Regions from separate parts of the Homo sapiens genome. Here region 1 is linked to region 2. The links come from fine-mapping of genetic effects on gene expression. Tissue or cell type: fibroblasts. Region 2 holds a variant in brackets; the other region holds the start of a gene. All regions are shown on one strand. Distances are from middle to middle.

Region 1 (5,377 bases), 33 kb before region 2:
GGAATTTCTCAACACGGAGCTTTTCAGTCCCCCACCTGCTTCCTTCTAGGCCTGCAAGGTCCTCTGTTGACTCTGCCACAGGGTATTGAGGGCTTCAGAATATGCTCCTTTTAAAATTCAATCTGACACCATCTCCTTTTCCCCCACTCACAGCTCTTCTCTGGGGCACACACTTACAGTGATTTCTGAGAGCTTCACAAGACAGCAGGCCATGTCACCGCTTCCATACTTACCCACTAAATCCCCACTCCAAAACCATAGGCTCTTTGTCTCACTATTCTACCGCCTAGACTGAAAATAAGCAATTTCTTTTTGACCAAATAAAGACAGGGTTTTCCAATTCCTGGGAGCGCTGTCAGGTCTCACTAGAAAGCAAGTTCTTCTCAAGACATTCTCCTTGTCTCTCCTCATCCCTCTTACGGGCCTGAATCTCTCCAGATCTGGCTGCCTCCAGCATCTGTCCTGTTCACCATTTTGGCCTCAGGGCCTAGCACAGGGCCTGGCACAAGCAGGTGATGCCCACAGTAACTACTGGACTGTGACATTGGGCTTCCCTCCTACAGCCTGCCTCTCTCTCCTCCAGCAGGCCTCTTCCTCATTCTCCAGGCCCAGGCTCGCCCATTACTTCCTCAGGTGAGTCTTCCTTGAATTCCTTGGGTCTTTTAAGTGCTTCCTTCCAGGTCAGCTCCTGGATCAACTATTTCAGTGCTAAGTGTGTCGAACAGGAGCTTGCACAGGTTGCCCAGCTAGAGTAGAAAGTCCTAGAGAGCAGAGACTGCATCTTTGTCACTTCTCTATCCCTGCGCTTACCACAGATCAGGGGACATTAGCTGGGTCACAGGAATTCCATAATTACCTTTAAAATGTATGCAAGCCCCTCATGAGAGAGAGGCTTTGCTTGAGTTATGCAGGGAAATGAGGCCGACAGTTTAGGATGCTGTGAGGAGGGGCTGGAGTTACCTGGCTCAAGGGCACTGCATTTCCTAAATAGCTGACTCTTCCATCTTACTTTAGTAGTAAAATACTCTGAACTTAGAGCCAGAAAGGGAAAGAAGCTTATCAAAAAGCTTTATCAAAAATAATATCAATATTCACAGGTAAATCATTAGCTTTCAACCAGGGTCAAAAAATCTTAATGCTTTCAACTGTGTTCTTTCAGCATCGGGCCTGGCCACGGGTTGAAGCCCTCTTCAAACAGCACAGAGGCAGGAGGGTGCTCCCCGCCACTGGGTATCCGGTTGCCCAGGGAATGGCATAGCCCCAGAAAATGCTGAGGCTCCCACATGTCGGGATCCTTCAGCTCGAACCCTAATATCTGTGTGGCTTTGGGGATGATGTGATTAACAGGAGCAGGGCGACTTCCACTTCCATGGCTGGCTTCTCTCAGGTACACCTTGTTCCTCAAGGCTGTACTCATCATTTGTTCCTTTATCTTTTAATTCAATTAAACCAGCTTTTATTGAGCCCTTACGGGGACAAGGAACTGTGAGATACTGTGGGAAATTTAAAGTTGAAAAAGACTGACCCTAAAGGAAAACCAGCAAGATTACAACATAATAGGGACCTCGAGATAAAATCCTTGTCATGCTGTACAGAGAAAATTAAATTCCAAGAACATACTGTACACCTCCTAGGAGAAAGAGGCTGTTCTACATTTTGGGGTCCAGAGATGAGGACATCTTCAGATTTTTAAGACCTTGCTCTCCAGAAGAAAGTATTAATACCTTCCCAGAGCACGCCCTTGGCACAAAGTGGGAAGATTACACAATCCTGCCCTCATCACCCCTCACCAGCCCCAAAGATCCCCGAGGGTTGACAGAATGAAGGTGGTGGAGCCTGGCCCAGGGGCATGCCCCTTATCTGTCAGTGCCATCTCTGCCGGCCAGAGGTGGCCCTATCCAGCTGGAGTTTCTGAGTCGGAGATTTCGTCTCTCGGCTCCCTTCCATCCCGCTGGAGAACAGCGGGATCCAGCCCTTCCATCCGGGCTCTGGTCTGTCTTGGGGGTGGGGGGACACTTCGATGTCTAGCAGGGGACTGGGAGACCCTAGGATGAACGGAGCCGGGCGTACCTGGATGGCGGTGGTGGGGATGGGTGGGGATAAAGGGTCTGGAGGACACCTGGCTCAGGGACTGAGGTCCTTGGCACAGCGCCCTGCCCTGTGCCCGTTGGTTGCAGGCTAACGGCCGGCGCCCCACTCTCGGCCTGACCACCCACCTGGGCACGCCCTGTCGTAGTCGAAGCAGCAGTCCCCGGTGAAGCGACAGGCTTGGTCGCAGAAACACGTCCCGTAGACCCTGTCCAGCCTCCAGCCGCGGGCGAAGCAGGCGGGGTCCCGGCCGGGACAGCAGCGCCCGGCCTCGGCGCAGCCGGCCTGGGCCCCGGGCCACAGCCGCGACAGCGCGCACAGCGCCATCCACAGGGTCCTCATGGCCAGGGCTCCGGCGGCGCCTGCGACGCGACAGACCCCCGGGGCAAGCGCTCTGATCCTCGGCTGGCCGCGGCCCGGGAGCTGCCCGAGCGGCCGGCGAGGCACAGCCGGGCCCTGCCCTGCGCCCGGCCCCCGCCCTCCGCGCCGCCCCTCCCCAGCCCTGGCGGCGCGCCCGTCGAGGCCCGGGCGGGTGGCGGGGCTGCCCTGCCCAGGTGGGGAGGGCGCTGCAGTTCCCGGGACGGGCCCGCAATCGACGGTCCGGGCGCCACCCACTCCCCGCTGCCAGCTCGCGCCCCAGCTCCAGCCCGGGGACCTCCGGGGCGCGGGAGCGGAAAAGCAGGTGCTGGCGGGGCGGGGGTCGGGGTGGGGTGCCGGGGCGTAGCCAGGAGCCCGGCGGGGGAGGCCACATTTCCTGGCTCTAAACTGTACTTCTAACGCCTGGGGACACATTAACGAGCGGGCATTTTCACTCTAAAGCCATGAGACCAAGAGCACTCGATGGGCACCAAACGTGTCTCAGCAGCACTCTGCGCGGGCCACCCCGCCTTCGCCCGGGAAAGCTCATTCAAATACAAAGTGGACACCAGCTCGCCCACCCTCTCAGTCCCCGCAGGCCGCAGAGAAGCTAGGAGATAAGTCCAAAGAAGCATCCTTTCTTTCTGCTGCATTTATAATGGGACTCTTCTGCCCCAGGAAAATGCCACTTCGCTTCACGAGGAGGCAATTTGTGAATGGTGGGAAGAATAAATAAAATAACGGGGCTCTGTTTTCTGATAAACCAATTTCTCCCCCTAAAAACTCTGTGTACTGATATTTTAGAACTTTCACTTTAATAAAATGCTTGCCTAACTTTTAATATATATATTTTCTTCTCCCTTTCTCTCCAAATGTGTTACGTTTTCTGCACCACTCTTTTTGTTCACCCAAATTTATGCTGGAATTTTCATTTTATGTTCTTAAATCATTTACCCTAATATGGTTTTTATGTGAAACCAGGAATATAACGTTTTTTGCATCTGCGAACCTAAGAAATCAAATTAATTTCATAGACTTTCTTTCTTTCTCATATAAGGATTTACAGAGGAATTTTCTTTATTCATCAGAGAGAAAAGTTAACAAAAGTAGAAATGAAAAACTTGACTACAAAAGTAGTGAAACAATACGGTAATCAACCATACAAAACACATTGTGAAATGAAGAAGATTTAATACATTATAAGAATTTTATCTTATAAACTCTAACCACAAAGTTTGACCAGTGGAGACTGTAATCTTATTTCATCTTCCAAGAAAAACACACTCTAAAGTCAAAAAGAAGTTTTTTCTTTGTGAGCTTATACAAACAAATTCTCAACGTTGAGATTTTTTTTCCGTCTTTAGGTAAGTCTCTCTTACTTTTGTAGTCTAAAGAAATAACATATACATATATATTTATATATATGTGTGTGTGGGTGTGGGTGTGTATCTTTAGTTTTTGTAGCTGGAACTAAATAACTGCAGCAAATTATACCCTCTGCCTTTTCCCATGTCACAGATTTTATTAGCAGTTTTGTATTAACTCATTCATGTAATTTATACCCACACCTTCTCTAAGGCTGTCTGCTTTATAGAACGCCTTTAGGCAGATACTTTTTTTGTAATGCCATAAGAATCTGGAACAGTTCCAGAAAGATGTAAAGGAAAATGATCCGCCGACAAGTTCGCTTTCAGGAATAAAACATGAAATGAAGTGATAACAGAAAGGAGAAGAGGAGGTCTGGTTTAAGAGAATTAAAAGTATAATGCCAAATGCCTGCTCAAATACCGTTCTTTTCAGCCCGCTCCCCACCCCCACCAGCCCTTTTCCTTATAGACAAAACCAAAATTGGAAATCGAAAACAAAAAGTTAGGGGGTCTGTGCTCATGAGATTTAGCTTCCAGAATTACAAAATCTGGGTCTAGTTCTGATCCTATGATTTCTGACAAATCTCAGTGCCCTCAACTCAAACATAGAACACTAAATCTTTTCAGATTGTTGTGAGAGGCCCACAGAGACGAGGCGATGTGAGTGGGAACTAAATATCTATTAATGTCCTAATGTCCACCCCACTCCCACTCCATAATTTAAGCCTAAACCAAGCAAAGACAAGTGCAGTTTTGGTTGTGTGCAAAATAGGGGAAAGCAAAAAGATTTTGTCGCTTAAAAAAAAAAAAGAAAAGAAAGGAAACGAAAACCACAAATGATTACTACTTTAACAGCACAGATAAAAAGGAGTTTGTCTCTGGTAAGTAACATTAAAAGAAACAATCTCAAGTTAAAGCTTGTACTGTCTTGAAAATATGAAGAAAAGCCTCCCGTAGCAGGCTGTAGCAAAGGAAGCAGTTCCTGCAGGAATGGGCAAAGTCAGAGGACCCTGACATTTAAAGCAATGGAGTTCACATCCTTACTGGAAACTGGATGCAGTCAACTGTAACAATTAGTGGCTTTGTTTTCCTTGCCCTGGAGATGTTTGGAGAGCAGAAATCATCCCAGTGATCAGGTGGATGACTATAGGAAGTAATAAAATGCACCTTAGAAGACACACTTTCTTCTGAAGTGTTGTCTTTGGAAGCTGTCCAGGATTGGTAAAATTATGGGGGTGGGGTGGGGGGCTGAGAGTGGGGAGAGAATGGAGATCTACCTATTCATCATTCTAGAACATAGTAATTTATTTATTTATTTATTTGAGACAGGGTCTTGCTGTGTCACCCAGGCTGGAGTGCGCTGGCACAATCATAGCTCACTGCAGCATCAAACTCCTGGACTCAAGCGATCCTCCCACCTCAGCCTCCCAAGTAGCTAGGACTACAGGCACATGCTGCCACACCCAGCTAATTATTTTTTGGAGACACTAGGTCTTGCTGTGTTGCCCAGGCTGGTCTCAAACTCTTGGTCTCAAGCGATTCACTTGTCTTGGCTTCCCAAAGCA
Region 2 (5,377 bases):
AGATGTAGGCTGGGAGACTAAGTCAGCCTAGTGTTTCCATGTTCTTCCACTGCCGAGACCAGTTCGGTCGTGAAGACCCTAACCCAGCAGCACTAGAAGAATTAAAGACAGACACAGAAATAGAGTGCAGAGTGGGATCAGGGAGCTGACAGCCTTCAGAGCTGAAAGCCACAAACAGAGTCTGACCCACATATTTACTGACAGCCAATGATAAGCATAGTTTCTATAGATTATAGATTAGCTAAAAGCTTTCCTTACGGGAAACAAAGCATTCTTAGCGAGGAGTAGAGAAACAGGCTCTGGCTGATTATCTGCAGCAAAAGCATGTTGTTGAGGCACAGGCCACTCCTGCTATTGTTTGTGGTTTGAGCAGTTTTCCACTCCAGGCGGGCCAGGTTTTCCTTGCCCTGCTCCAGTAAACCAACAACTTTCAGCAGTGTGCATGATAGCCATCATGAACATGTCACATTGCTGCAGAAATCCTGTTTATGGCCAGTTTCTTTAAGGCCTGTTTATGGCAGGCTTACGGCTTGTTCATAGCATCCCACCTGCTTTTATTCTGGCCATGCTGGCAGCTGATTAGATGGTGCCCACCCAGATTGAGGGTGGAGCTGCCTTTCCCCATCCACTAACACAAATTTTAATCTCCTTTGGCAACACCTTCACAGACACACTGAGGAACAATACTTTGTATCCTTCAATCCAATCAAGTTGACACTCGGTATTAACCATCACACTTTCAGATGCAGATATTGGCATTTCTGAACTTTTCTAAATACATAAGAACTGTGAACTCTCAGGGTTTGGAGGAATGGTAGAATCATGGAGCCTAACCATCTGTCTGATGCATGACTCCCACACCCCTGCCAAATGACAGATCCAGCAATCTCTGCCTGAGCTCTTCCCACAAGCAGTGCCTCTCTGTCTCCAGTATCCCCCTACTCATTCATTAAGCACCTGCAGTGTGCCAGGTGCTATGCCAGGATCCTGACTACTCAAGAAACTCCTATGTAGGTAAGAGAATAGGATGAGAGAATACAGATGAGGAATAAGAAAGAGATCCTTGAACAAAGTGAGATGGTTCTGGATACTAAGAGTCAACACAAAACCCAGCACATCCTCTAACATTTGACAGGCATTTCCTCTTTGCCATCTCCCCATCCCCTAACCCGGTCATACTGACAGTTGTTGAAGCATACTTACATAAGGGATATTGTGTTTCCATTCTAGATTCTCAAAATATTTCACCATTTTGAGCAGTGTTACACTGACTCTCATTCACTGTCAAAAGGTTTCATGATCTAAATATTATAGTAGTCAAGATGAAACCTAAAAAGAACGGCAAGGGTTGTTTGTCCAGTTTCTGTTCCAGAAATCACTCTGGGTGCTCTGTGATGCTAACAGCATGGGACTGGAGCCAAGCGATAGGCAGCATGTCCGTGTCATTGTCCAGTCCTCACTTTGCCCCATGAGGACCCTGAGATCAGCCTGTGAACAGCACAAGGTGACCTGCAGGCAGGTAACCTCTCTACACAGCTCTCTCAGACCCCAGCAGTGAGGGAGAAGAAAGTGGGGAGGAGGCAACAGAAGCTCAGCCATCACTGAAGGGCAGGGCAAGGAGACAAGGGAAAAGGAAGTGACAACTGTTATCTGTAATTAATCACTGTGACACCCACCGCTTCTCTCGGGGTTATGATGGTGTTTTTGTCACCATCCCAAGGAAACTAGATTATTATTCCTATTCACGGACATGGAAGGTTATGGCTCCCAGTGGTCCTTTAGGGGGTTCAGCGTCTATTTTCTTTCTTCTTTCTTTCTCTTTTCCTCCTTTGCTTATCCTTCCCTGTTTGGGGGTTACCTTCATCTTCTTCACTTTTTTGTTCTTTCTTCCTCTCTCTGCCTCTGTCTCTGTCTCTGTCGGTTTCTCTCTCTCTTTCCTTCCCTGTCTCTATCTCTGTCTGTCTCTCTCTATTTCTCTCTTTCTTTCTCCCCCCCTACCCCACAGGCTATGTTTCGCCTATAGATGGAACAACATTCTGGGCATTGATCTAGAGACTGACGTAAAAGTGTTTCAGGAGCACAAAGCAGATAGAACATGAGTCTAAGATCCAGGAAACCTGGATTCTCTTCCTGGCTTTGTCATTAATATCTGTGACAGCTAGGATGAGATGAAAGACATGAATGTGCTTTGAAAAATAATACAGAGTACCATTGTATATTCTTCCAAAGCTACTACTTGCAAAGTGATGTTGAGGAGGCCCAGCAAGAATACAAAATCTATTGTGAACCTGCTGTTGTGCCTGGCCTTGAGTCAGAGAGTCCATTCAGCATACAGAACTGATTTTGAGCTTAAAAAGGCCTATTTAGAGCAAAAGAACCTGAAGAATTTGTGCAATACCAGGCATGCAGTGAAACCTGAGAACACAAAAATTCCTGAGCTCAGTTTAAAATCAAGATCAATGTTGTCATTCTGAAGTCACTGTTCCATTTAGCTCCATGCCAAGGATTACTGCCATGCTGAGTGATGAGAACCATTGGATCCAGCTCCATACCATGGAAAACATAACACACTCAGATGCTGTTATCTCTAATTACATTCTTGAATGGGCCGCTGCTGATCTCTCTGACATGAGCCCATCCCCATTTGTGTGCTACAGGGAATAAGAATGACTTTTACAAACTTCTCTGTGCACGCTTAGGGTACTAATTGCTTTCTAACACCCATCCCTTCAAGTCCTCTTTTCACTTTTAAATTTCTCAAGCCAAAGGATACAAAGTATTGTTAAATAAATAACATGGAACACTTCAGAAGCTGAGTGACCTGCCACAGTTTAGGCCTTAAAGGAGATAAAGCAGGGATTCTCCAAGTGTGGTCCCCAGTCCAGCAGCGTCAGTTTCTCCTGAGA[A/ACTTGTT]AGAAAGGCCTATTTTCAGGCCCCGCCCAAGATCTACTGAGTCACAAACTTGGGGAAAACAATCTATATTGTAATAAGCCTTCCAAGTGTTTCTGATAGACACTAAATGTATTTTATTTTCTATCACTGCTGTAACAAATTACAATAAACATGGTGGCTTAAAACAACACTAACGTGTTATCTCCAGCCTGCAGATCAGAAGTCTGCCAAGGGTTGCACGGGGCTGAAATGAAGGTGTTATCAGGGCTGAGTTCCTTTCTGAAGGCTCTAGAGGAGAATCTGTTTCCTTACCTTTTCCAGTTTCCATAGGCTGCCTTCATTCCTGGACTCAAGGCCCTTCCCCCTGTTTCCAAAGCCAGCAACAGTGGGCCCAGTCCCTTTCACCCACCATCTCTGAGCCTCTGATTCTTCTTCCACTTTTAAAGACTCATATAAATAAACTGGTCCTACTGAGATCATCTAGACTAATCTCCCCGTCTTAAGTGAGCTAATTAGCAAACCTAGTTACATCTGCAACCTTCTCTTTCACCATGCCACATAACATACTCACAGGTTCCAGGTATTGGGGTGTGGGCATCTTGAGTGGCTGCACATTATTCTGCCTAGGACAGTCCACCTTCTGGCACTGAAAGATTCATGTCTGCCCCACATGCAAAATACATTAACCCTATCCCAGTGCACCCAGAGTCTCAACCCATTATAGCACAAATTCAAAGTGCCAAATCTCATTGTCTAAATCATCTAAATAAGGTATGGGTCAGCCTCTGGGTGTAACAGATCTTCGGGCACAGTTTCTCTCTACCTAGACTTGTGAACTAAAAAAAGGTTATCTTTTTTTAGTTCAGGTTATCTTCTCTGAAAATACAATGGCAGGACAGGCATAGGATGACATAGACATTTCTGTTCAAAAAAGGAGAAAATAGAAGAAAAAAGAAATCATCAATCAAGTGATTTCAAACTGCAGTGAGGCAAACTCCATTTGGTTTTAAAACCTAAAACTAATCCTCTGTAGTTCACTGCTCTGCTGCCTGAGCCATCCTTCCTTTTTCATAAAAGGCAGCTGAGTAGTTTTATTGGTCTGTGTTCTGAATTTCAGGGGACCAACAGGCTTCTTTCATTTTGCACTCTGTCCTTTTCGGTCCAAGCTGGAAGTGTTTCAGCAGGTATAAAAATCCTCAGAAACCTTGTAAGTCTCCCATGTTAAATCACAGGGATTTACTCCATTTGATGAAAGGATCCTTCAAAGATCTTTCCTAGATAATCCCATCTCTATTTTTGGTTTCTGCTGAGATAATGGGATCTGTGAGGTGCATCTTTAATCTTTACAAAAAAGTTTTTTGTGTTTTTTTTCTTTTGTGACTAAAGACTTTGAACTTTTCATTTTTCTGAAATGTTTTATTTTTCCAGAGTATTATCAAACAGATCCAGCCATGATCTCAGCTTTTTCTCTACAGCATGCTTTTTGATGGTGAATCTCTTAATTTTAGCATCTTTTGCAATCTGGGTAAAATGAGAATTCCCCAAATAATCAAGTCTTGAATTCTTTTGGTTTAACTGTTCTTCACACAATTTATCTCATTCCTCTCACACTTCACTATAAGCAGCAAAACCAGACCACGTCTTAGGACCTTTCTTGGAAGTCTCAACCTAGTGTTCAGTTTCATCACTTGGAAGCTCTGCTTTCCACATAATTGCAGGACACAATTCTGCTCAGCTTTCTGCCACTATATTACAAGAATCCCCTGTCCTCCAGCTTCCAATAACATGTTTCTTGTTCCCTTCTGAGCCCTCTGATAAAGATGTTATGAACATTGTTGAAATAACAACACAGGATTTAGACTATTACATAAACTTATTTGATAAAGCAGCATCAGAATTTGAGAGGATTAATTCCAAATTTGAAAGAAATTCTATTGTGGGGAAATGCTATCAAACAGCATCACATGCTATAGAGAAATCTTTCATGAAAGGAAAAGTCAATCAATGCAGCAAACTTCACTCTTGTCTTATTGAAGAAATTGCCACAGCCTCCCAACCTTAAGCAACCACCACCCTGATCAGTCAGCAGCCATCAACATTGAGGCAAGACCCTCCACCAGTGAAGAGATTACAATGCACTGAAGGCTCAGATAATCGTTAACATTTTTTAGCAATAAAGTATGTTTAACTAAGGTACGTATGTTGGTTGTTTTTAGACATAATGCTATTGCACACTTAATAGGCTACAGTATAGTGTAAACCTAACTTGTGTATGTACTGAGAAGCCAAGAAAATTCATGTCTCTCAGTTTATTGTGATGTTCATTTTATTGCAGTGGTCTGGAACTGAACTTTCAATAAATCCAAGTTATGCCTGTAAAAGTAAAATAAGACTCAAACTTTTGAGTGTTAAGTAGGCACACTAGACTTACTTTTAGAAGATTCATAACATAGTAGAGGATATTAAAGGATCTGCATAGCCACAGTAAACAA

Alleles and levels. Positions count from the first base shown, and alleles are read on the strand shown. Sizes are in standard deviations (SD) of each study's normalised expression.
As copies of A replace ACTTGTT in region 2, the expression in fibroblasts of the gene that starts at base 2,535 in region 1 goes down (moderate effect, 0.63 SD a copy in GENCORD).

What was found. PIP is the estimated chance that this variant, and not a neighbour inherited with it, causes the effect.
Region 1: SBSPON starts here. The variant in region 2 is the best candidate, but not a certain one, in a credible set for the expression of SBSPON in fibroblasts (GENCORD, PIP 0.51).

The regions. Positions count from the first base shown.
Region 1 is chr8:73,090,638-73,096,014 of GRCh38, forward strand. It overlaps SBSPON (somatomedin B and thrombospondin type 1 domain containing), which reads right to left and starts at 2,535. Exons shown (of 5, transcript NM_153225.4): 1 at 2,217-2,535. The coding sequence starts at 2,430.
Region 2 is chr8:73,123,733-73,129,109 of GRCh38, forward strand. No RefSeq gene overlaps it. Among named protein-coding and RNA genes, the nearest start is that of SBSPON, 33 kb to the left of the region's middle. The variant A/ACTTGTT (reference allele first, on the strand shown) is at 2,907.